2 separate regions of the Homo sapiens genome follow, and region 1 is reported to be linked to region 2. Evidence: microRNA targets listed by miRTarBase, many of them from high-throughput screens and not tested one by one. Region 2 holds a microRNA gene; the other region holds the end of a gene's coding sequence.
The links. The annotated mature microRNA hsa-miR-6755-3p reads UGUUGUCAUGUUUUUUCCCUAG and lies in region 2 at 2,545-2,566, shown strand. An mRNA with a match to its seed (bases 2 to 7 or 8) in the 3' UTR can be bound and repressed. Matches are read on the target gene's strand: a 7mer-m8 pairs with bases 2 to 8, a 7mer-A1 pairs with bases 2 to 7 and ends in A, and an 8mer does both.

Region 1: the mRNA of CBFA2T3 is a reported target of hsa-miR-6755-3p. Seed matches in the 3' UTR shown: 7mer-m8 at 1,030-1,036.

What each region holds. Positions count from the first base shown.
Region 1 is chr16:88,873,433-88,877,761 of GRCh38, reverse strand. It overlaps CBFA2T3 (CBFA2/RUNX1 partner transcriptional co-repressor 3), which reads left to right. Exons shown (of 12, transcript NM_005187.6): 12 at 487-2,904. The coding sequence ends at 786. Among named protein-coding and RNA genes, the nearest start is that of PABPN1L, 8.9 kb to the right of the region's middle. RefSeq lists a silencer at 3,118-3,270.
Region 2 is chr11:86,275,833-86,280,224 of GRCh38, forward strand. MIR6755 (microRNA 6755) reads left to right here and starts at 2,501; the gene lies at 2,501-2,566. It overlaps EED (embryonic ectoderm development), which reads left to right. Exons shown (of 12, transcript NM_003797.5): 10 at 1,148-1,306; 11 at 2,086-2,159; 12 at 2,567-2,978. The coding sequence ends at 2,693.

The sequences.
Region 1 (4,329 bases), not on the chromosome of region 2:
AACTCACCCTACGGGAAGGGAGCAGAGCCCACCACAGGGTGGGGGCAGAGGTGGAGGGGGTGCAGCAGAGGCAGGGGTGGGGCAGAGGTGGGGAGGGGGACGGGTGGGTGTGGATGCAGCAGAGGCGGATGGTGAGATCTCAGCAGCCTCAATCCTGCCGGGGCCACGCCCTTTGGTTTTGCGGTTTTGGAGCCTGGTGAGCTCAGGAGGGCTTCCTGGAGAGGAGGCAGGGGTCGTTGTCCAGTTAGCACAGCGCAGACCTATCTGGGTGGGCTGGAGCGTGAGACACGGTAGTGGGATGCCGTCCCGCAAAATGGCCCAGTGAGTGGCTGTATCTGGAGCATGGCCCGAGGGCTGTGGGGCTTTGGAGTTTCTCTCTTCTCACCTGGTGATGACGTGGCTGGGTCTGAATGGCTTGGTTGAGGCGTGTGTTGGGGATTCGGGTGGCCAGACCCAGCCCTGACTGGCCCCTCTGCCCCCACCCAGAGCTGCTGGAACTGCGGGCGGAAAGCCAGTGAGACGTGCAGCGGCTGCAACGCGGCACGCTACTGCGGGTCCTTCTGCCAGCATCGGGACTGGGAGAAGCATCACCACGTGTGTGGCCAGAGCCTGCAGGGCCCCACAGCCGTGGTGGCCGACCCGGTGCCTGGACCGCCCGAAGCCGCCCACAGCCTGGGCCCCTCCCTGCCTGTGGGTGCTGCCAGCCCCAGCGAAGCCGGCTCTGCGGGGCCTTCTCGCCCCGGCTCCCCCAGCCCACCTGGCCCACTGGACACCGTGCCCCGCTGACCCCACTGGCCCCTGGCCTGCCGGACACAGCACCGTGCCAACCCCACCCAGCTCCAGGCCCACCGGATGCTGTGCCTGGCCTCCGATGCCTGGCCTGCCAGACACTGCGCCCCGCCTGACCTGGGGGAGCCGACCAATTAGTCACTGCTGCTACTGCCCCTCTCCGAAAGAAGACACAGAACCAACAAAACCGCATTCAGTGCACCTGCCTCAGCTACCTAATGATTCCGCGCGGAGACCTCCTGACAACGTCTCTTCAAGCATCCTCAGAAGCCTCGACTGAGCTTTAGACAGCAGAGCAGATGCCGCAGGCGCGGCGGCTCTGCCCACCTCTCTTTTCCTCTCTGTCTGTCTCTCCCCCTCTGTCTTCTCTATCCTCTCTCTCTCTATGACTATCACACACTTTCTCTTCAATGAAAAAATCGAATTGGTGGCTTATATTTTCAGCAAAGAATTTTGGGGGGTTTTGTGTGTTGGCAAAAGAGCTACTCAGAAATGGACAAAGAAAACGGGGGGGTTCTCCCCCTCCTGATTAAAAAGGGAGAAAGAAAACTGCGATTTTATAGCTGGAGATCTGAACCCAGCTGTGCCCCTCCCCCAGGGGCGTGAGGCTGATCAGCGAAGACGGGAGGAAAGATTTCGATTTCTGACTCAAGATGCATTTTTGGTTTCAGATTTTTTTTTCCTGTAATGTTAAACTCTTTGGCTTTAAGTAAAAATCCAAAAAGTTTTTTTAAAAAAGCAAAGGAAGCATACTTGTGAACTACCTTGCTAGCTAGCCAGCCAAGGATACCGGACACACCTCTGCTCCAAAGGAAATCCAAAAAAGCAAACACAAGAAATCAAAATCCAAAATTTGTTTGTCACTGCCAAAGTATTTTTTTCACTGTTTCACTTGCTCTTGGGTTTGTTTGGATGTGGGTCTTTTTCTCTTCTGTTCTGATTTTGTTTGTGGGTGTCGGGATATTTGGGTGCAGAGGGTTTGTGCCCAGTTAGAAGCGACTTTTGTTCTCTTCTGCGTAGGCGTTGGTGCGTCCGCCGCGTGTGCGTGGTCCGTGTGCCGTTGCTCCGGCCTGCGTCTCCATATGTGTAGGAAAGGACACGCCGTCTGTCCTCACGCCCCCTGTGACTTTTCATATTTCCGTTTTCCACTTGTGGAAAAAAAGTGCTAAAGTTTTCTTCCCAGAGAGAGCATAATTCCGAAACAAAACTGTGACAATCTTTTGGGTTGATTCTCGACTGCTTTTCGAGCATGCGGAGCCAGCAGGCCTCCCTGAAACACTGCTTCTCGGCCAGCCCGTCCTCCTCTACCTCTCTCCTCTCCGCGCCCTCCGACCTCTCTCGGCCCCCTCACCCCAGCTCCGACCTCTCTCAGCCCCATCGCCCCAACTCCAACCTCTCGGCCCCATCGCCCCACCGCAGCTACTCCCCTTTCTTCCAAACTTTTGCAGAAAAAACAAAAAAACTACAAACAAAAGCAGCCCTCTGCCTCCTCCCCAGGGAAGACCCTGACCGTGTACATAGCCCTGGTGCTCCTGCCCAGCCACCCCTCAGATGCGTTCGCCTCTGGCCCTGGGGTGTGTCTCGGTGACGTTTTCTATCAGACGTGCTCCCTCCCATCCTCCAGCCCTGCCCACCCTCCCTCCACTCCTCTCAACTGCCTCAGCGATTTCAAGAAGGAAATAAAGGGATAAAGAAATTCATGCTTGCACCGAGTACAAGGACAGACAGCAGGCACGGCCCGCAGCCTGGCATCTGTGCGTGTGGCGTGGCCCGTGGCTTGGCATCTGTGTGCGTGGTGTGGCCCGTGGCCTGGCATCTGTGTGCGTGGCGTGGCCCGTGGCCTGGCATCTGTGTGTGTGGCGTGGCCCGTGGCCTGGCATCTGTGCGCGTGGCGTGGCCCGTGGCCTGGCATCTGTGTGCGTGGCTATCAGGAGTTCTAGGAACTCAGTGCAATACGGGAGTGACCCAGCTACTGAACCAGCCACGAACAGCCCGCCAGAGGCCTGAAGCTGAGCGTGTACGTTAATGTGAATGTATATAGTCTTTGCAGAGGTCCAAATGATATTCATGATGGTAATAAACGAGATGTTTGCCAAATAAAAAACAGAAACCGCAGGAGTTTGCGAAGTGTAGGAAACAGATTTTCAAAGAAATCCGAACAGTGGCCCCGAGGGGAGGAGCGGTTTGCCTGCTGGTGGTTCTTTCACGGTGGTAAAAATTCATTCTTTGAGCATCATAAGGATGGATCCTGTCGGGTCACCACCGGTCAGGTACCGTCTGGAACCAAGTCTGACAACAGAAACCTCGTTCTGAAAGTCAAGATAGATCGAGTCTGTCCTCCAGACATTGCCCTGGCCCCGGCACCACCTCCATTCCTCAGTGACAGGCCCAGCAAGCTCCCCAAGGTTTGCTTTTGTGGGTTTCAGAGAAGCAAGGACCGGTCTGGGATTTGGGCTCTCGGTTAAGTGGCAGAAGCGCGCCTCTCCTCCTTCCAGGGCTGCGGTTCTCCAGCTCCGAACCCACACAGCGGCAGCAGCGGACACGCCCGTGCCCACGAAGGGGACTTGCCTCCCTCGGAGGTAGACGTCCTGGGACTCTTCTCATCTCTCTCCCCCACTGGGGCTCCATCTTGTCCCCACCCACACTCCAGTGCCCTTCCAGGTGGGCAGGGCAGTTGGCTGTGGTGATCAAAGGCTCTAGGGGACAGGAAATGGGTACAGTGCTGTGGGGTAAATTGAGTCAGGCCCTCCAAGGCTGTGCAGGTGAACCGGTGGTCTCTAGAGCACCGAGCCCCAGGGCAAGTGGACCCATGGGCAGCTTCCCTGGTTACTCAGGTCCCTGGGGTCAGGACTGTGGTGGGGAGCGTGGAGGAGACACGAGTTTACTTTGTGGGCAAAAGCCTCCTCTTTTTCCCTCCCCTCCCTGGATCCTTCTTTGGGTACACACAGGTGTACCAGGGACAGTGGCATGTGCACCAGCTGGCTGCATCGATCTGGCCAGCAGCCTCCAGGGGCCAGACCACAAGGCTGAGGGTGAGACAGGCCCTGTCACCTCAGATCTTGGGAAGGGGTCAGCCCTCGAGCCAAAGATGAATGCCATCTGCCCTGCGTAGCCCCCCACCATGCACCAAGCCACCCTCAGCACGAGTGCAAAACTGGCATGAGGACCTGGCCAGAGACCAGGCAGATGGAGCCCTGTGGCCGAGGGCCACAAGGAATCAGGACAGCTGGGAAAACTGAGGCCCGGAGACAGAAGAAGGGGATGTCCTGGGTGCAATGTGTCAGGGAACCCTGGGCGGGTGTTGGCCGAGTCACGTGAAGCAAGGCAGCTCCTGCCCAGGAAGGCTCTGGGGCCCCCTCCGATGCTTCAGAGGCCCGTCTTTCTGTAGCTCATATGCCCAGGCCCTGGTGGTCAAAGACCTGACAGCAAACCAGGTGGAACCCATAGCTCTGGGGAGGGGACGGGGACAGGCGGCATTCTTGTGTTAGGGGTGGTCCCCTTGGTGGCCATGAGTACCCATCCCCATGGTTCCGACCTGCA
Region 2 (4,392 bases):
AACTTGAATAATAGATGTCATATAGCACTAGGATTTAAAAAGTCTAAATAAAAAAGGTAGAGAAGAAAAATGTGTTGTCTCCTCCCTAATCTTCAAGTGGCCATACTATTAAATTATTTAAATGCCTGTGAACCCCACAGGGCTGCCACCTGTCACTATATTATGTAGGCTGTCCAGTAAAACTCTAGGGGCACTGTTCACTTACATGAGGATTTCTGAATCCTGGTGCTATTTAGTTTAGGCCAGATAATTCTTTTTTTTGTAGGGGGTTTCCTGTGCATTATAAGATATTTAGTAGCATCTTTGGCCTCTACCCATTAGAGCACAGACACATTGTCAAATGTCCCTTCGTGGGCAAACCACTGACCTAGACAGTAATATGAATAGTGCCCACAGTTTTGCAATTTTTTCTCATTGTATTCTTTACCACTTACTGCTTAGGTATGTGCATACAAATTTGATTTTATAGGATAGGAAAAGTATAAGTTTGAAGCCTATTTCAATCCTATCCCCATATGAGTGTCTTGATGTTAAACAACTGCTTTACTTGCCTTCGATTGCCCTATTTATAAACTGAATTCTAAGGCTATTTATGTGAGTTCATCAACTTTCCTAAGATACCTGTTGAGTACCTACTGTGTGGCACAGATACTGGATGAAGGAATAATAGTTAATAAGGTAAAGGAAACCACCTGTGATTAGAAGCGAAATGGGAGACTGCATGGGGAAAGATGAAACTAGTGAAGTAAGCAAGAGCCAGATTAATGCCGGATTCTGAAAAGCCATGTATTCTAATTCTGTGTGTTTGTAATTGACCTGTGCTATAAAACACTTAAAGTCTCTGGGTGTCAGAGTATCTAGAGCTGAACTTGGTTTAACTTGAAAGAGAAATGTTGACTTCCAAAATGAATATTTCAGACAATGTGATTCTTTTGTATTATCGAATTCTGTTGATAATCAGATTTCTTGTCCTTAAGTATGGTCATTGACTGTAAATATAAATGAATGTACATCACTGTACTTGATAGATGGATTAACCAGGTTCTAAGAGCTGTGAATTCCAAAACAATAGAAAAGCCTTGTTTTTACTTTGTAAGATTCAGTTCCTCATTAACATTTCTTTTTCTCATTTCTCTCTCTGTTTTAGTCTTGTGAAAATGCCATTGTGTGCTGGAAACCTGGCAAGATGGAAGATGATATAGATAAAATTAAACCCAGTGAATCTAATGTGACTATTCTTGGGCGATTTGATTACAGCCAGTGTGACATTTGGTACATGAGGTTTTCTATGGATTTCTGGCAAAAGGTATCAACATACTTTTACATTTTGAAATGATCTGACTTATGAAAGACCATTGTAATTCTAGCTTTTTCTGTTGTGTCCATGTTCTTTTTCCTTTACAAATCTACCCTGATGTTTTGTATTGATTACTTTGCCCTTTGATGTCATTCATCAAATACTTTGGTGTTATTCATTCTACTTTTGTGGCTCTGCATATGATCTGCAGTGCTTACTTTAAATTAAGTTGGCAGTTAGGTATCAATGGTGGAAATTAGGTGTTTATGTTCCATAACATAAACATTATCATAACATTACTAAGACTTAATGTTTTAGTAATTAGATTGTCAGTCTACCTATGTAACTGTTTCCTAGAGAAAAATCAGGATAGAAGACAGATAAAATACTAGTTACCTAAAAATTTAAATAAATCTATTGTTAGGATTTTCTGGTAACAAATTACTTGGGTATTTATTTCTGTAAGAAAAGTTTGGAAGGCTTTCCACAGCATTTGCTGTATTTCTTGAAGGCAGAAGAAAAAGTAAGTACCATGCTAACAATGTAAATTTGTAAGGCCCTTCATAAATTTGCACAATGCCTTCTTACTTGCTCAAGACACTTGTGATGTATTAATTGCTCTTATTCATATTTACGAATCAGGAGTATAAGACCCAAAGAAATAGCCAAGAGCACAGAGGCTGGAACTGAGCTTTTTCTGAAACAAGAAAGCTGTCTGAGGATTCCTCCAATGCTTTAGAACCTGGTAATTTTATTAATTTGATGTTTTTAAAAATATGTTTATACAGATGCTTGCATTGGGCAATCAAGTTGGCAAACTTTATGTTTGGGATTTAGAAGTAGAAGATCCTCATAAAGCCAAGTAAGTATTTAGAAATTTCTGTTCAAAATTTCAGGCTTTTTCTCCACACTTGTATGCCAATGTAGAGAAGATCATTTATATTTGCAGTGCCATCCTTAAGTCATTTTTAACATTTACTGTTTTCAGAGTTAAAGTTATTCTTTTTTATTCCAATAATTTTTGTTTTTCCTAAGTACCTTGGTGACAAGTCATTTCTTGTTTTTATACAAATTATGTAGTGCTTGTTGAACTTAAAATATATCTAAATTTTATAAAATTTGAGACTGAGCTCTTAGTGAAGTATATTCTGGTTTTAAGTGCTTTTCGTATGACTTGGAACATCTGCTTATTTTCTAATCCGCTGTTTTAGGGTAGACACTGACAACGTTATGTGTGGTCTTTAACCTGTTGTCATGTTTTTTCCCTAGATGTACAACACTGACTCATCATAAATGTGGTGCTGCTATTCGACAAACCAGTTTTAGCAGGGATAGCAGCATTCTTATAGCTGTTTGTGATGATGCCAGTATTTGGCGCTGGGATCGACTTCGATAAAATACTTTTGCCTAATCAAAATTAGAGTGTGTTTGTTGTCTGTGTAAAATAGAATTAATGTATCTTGCTAGTAAGGGCACGTAGAGCATTTAGAGTTGTCTTTCAGCATTCAATCAGGCTGAGCTGAATGTAGTGATGTTTACATTGTTTACATTCTTTGTACTGTCTTCCTGCTCAGACTCTACTGCTTTTAATAAAAATTTATTTTTGTAAAGCTGTGTGTTTAGTTACTTTCATTGTGGTGAAAAAAAGTTAAAAGTAATAAAATTATGCCTTATCTTTTTATAATGGTTGTTTTTTGTAGTTCTCTTAACCAGAGAAAGTTTTGTAATACAGAGATTAAGTATAGGCTCTAGAACTAAAGTGAATTCAAATCTTGGCTCTCCTACTACGTGACCTTGGATAAACAACTTCTCAATGCTTGGTTCCTTGTGTATAAAACAGGGATAATAATACTTGCCTTGGGGTTATTGTGAGGATCAAATGATTCGTTATGTGTGAGACAGTTAGAACAGTATTTGACATATAATAAGCCCTAAATGTATTCTGTGTTTATAATTATTGGAGATTATAGTTCCTATGGTTTTATATTTTTTAATGATTTCTTATGTAATAGTTTCATAAGTAATATTTAAAATTCTACAGAGTTAGAACCTCTGATAATGTTTAACTGTAACCTTTCTTTATAGTTTAAAAAATATTACTGCCATTAGATTTGGAACTAGGCCATTGGTAACCTTAGAGGAGATATCATTAGGGCAAAGGAGGAGAGGATATAGAAGTTTAAATGCAGTGGGTTGGATCATGAAAGAGATGGCAAGTATGTCCATGTAGTGAGTTGTTGCCCCTTTTCTAGAAGGATGTTACTGGCTAAGAGGGATTAAGTAGATTGAGATCATAAGGTTGGGAATAGTTGGTTATTTTGTCTCCAACATAAGGCACACTGCATTTATTTGTGGGCAAAAATTCCCTAAAGAGTGAAGACCAAGATCACATGTGGAGGGGTTAACTTGAAGCAGAGGAGTGAAGAAAGCCTGAATGATCATAAAGCTAAGGTTGGAGGTGAAATGAGGTGAGCCAGAGAAAAATACAAAAGACTGAATTTTGTCAGGTTTTTAAAAAGATTCATGAACTTGTTTCTATAAATATGTATATTTTTAAAGTTTAGTTTTGATATCTTGTACAGTGTTTGATACTGCCCCTTTTTGAGCTATCTCTGAAGCACAGTTTACTTCTCTGATAATAGTATAATGCTTAAGTCTGAATAAACAGGAAAACTTACTGCCTTTTACTGTCTTGGTCCAATGAACGCTTCAATTGTTTTTTAGAAATTTTAATAGGAACTTCAAGAAGTAAACCTTTATAGCAAGTAAATTCTTACGTACAGCATCACAAAAGACAAGGAATACTGTCATATCCTTTTAGCAAAATGAGATTGCCTAGGTTCTTGTTGCAAAATACCACATAATGAAATCCTTCCTGTTGCATGATTAACTGGGTGAGAATATCATCTTTCCTTTTGGTCCGTAGAAATGTATTATTCACTACTCCATTCTTGAGGTTTGTTTTTTAATTTTTTTGGAGACAGTCTCACTCTGTTGCCCAGTCTGGAGTGCAGTGGTGCGGTCTCAGACGTCTCACTGCAACCTCTGTCTCCCAGGCTCAAGTGATTCTCGTGCCTCACCCTCCCAGGTAGCTT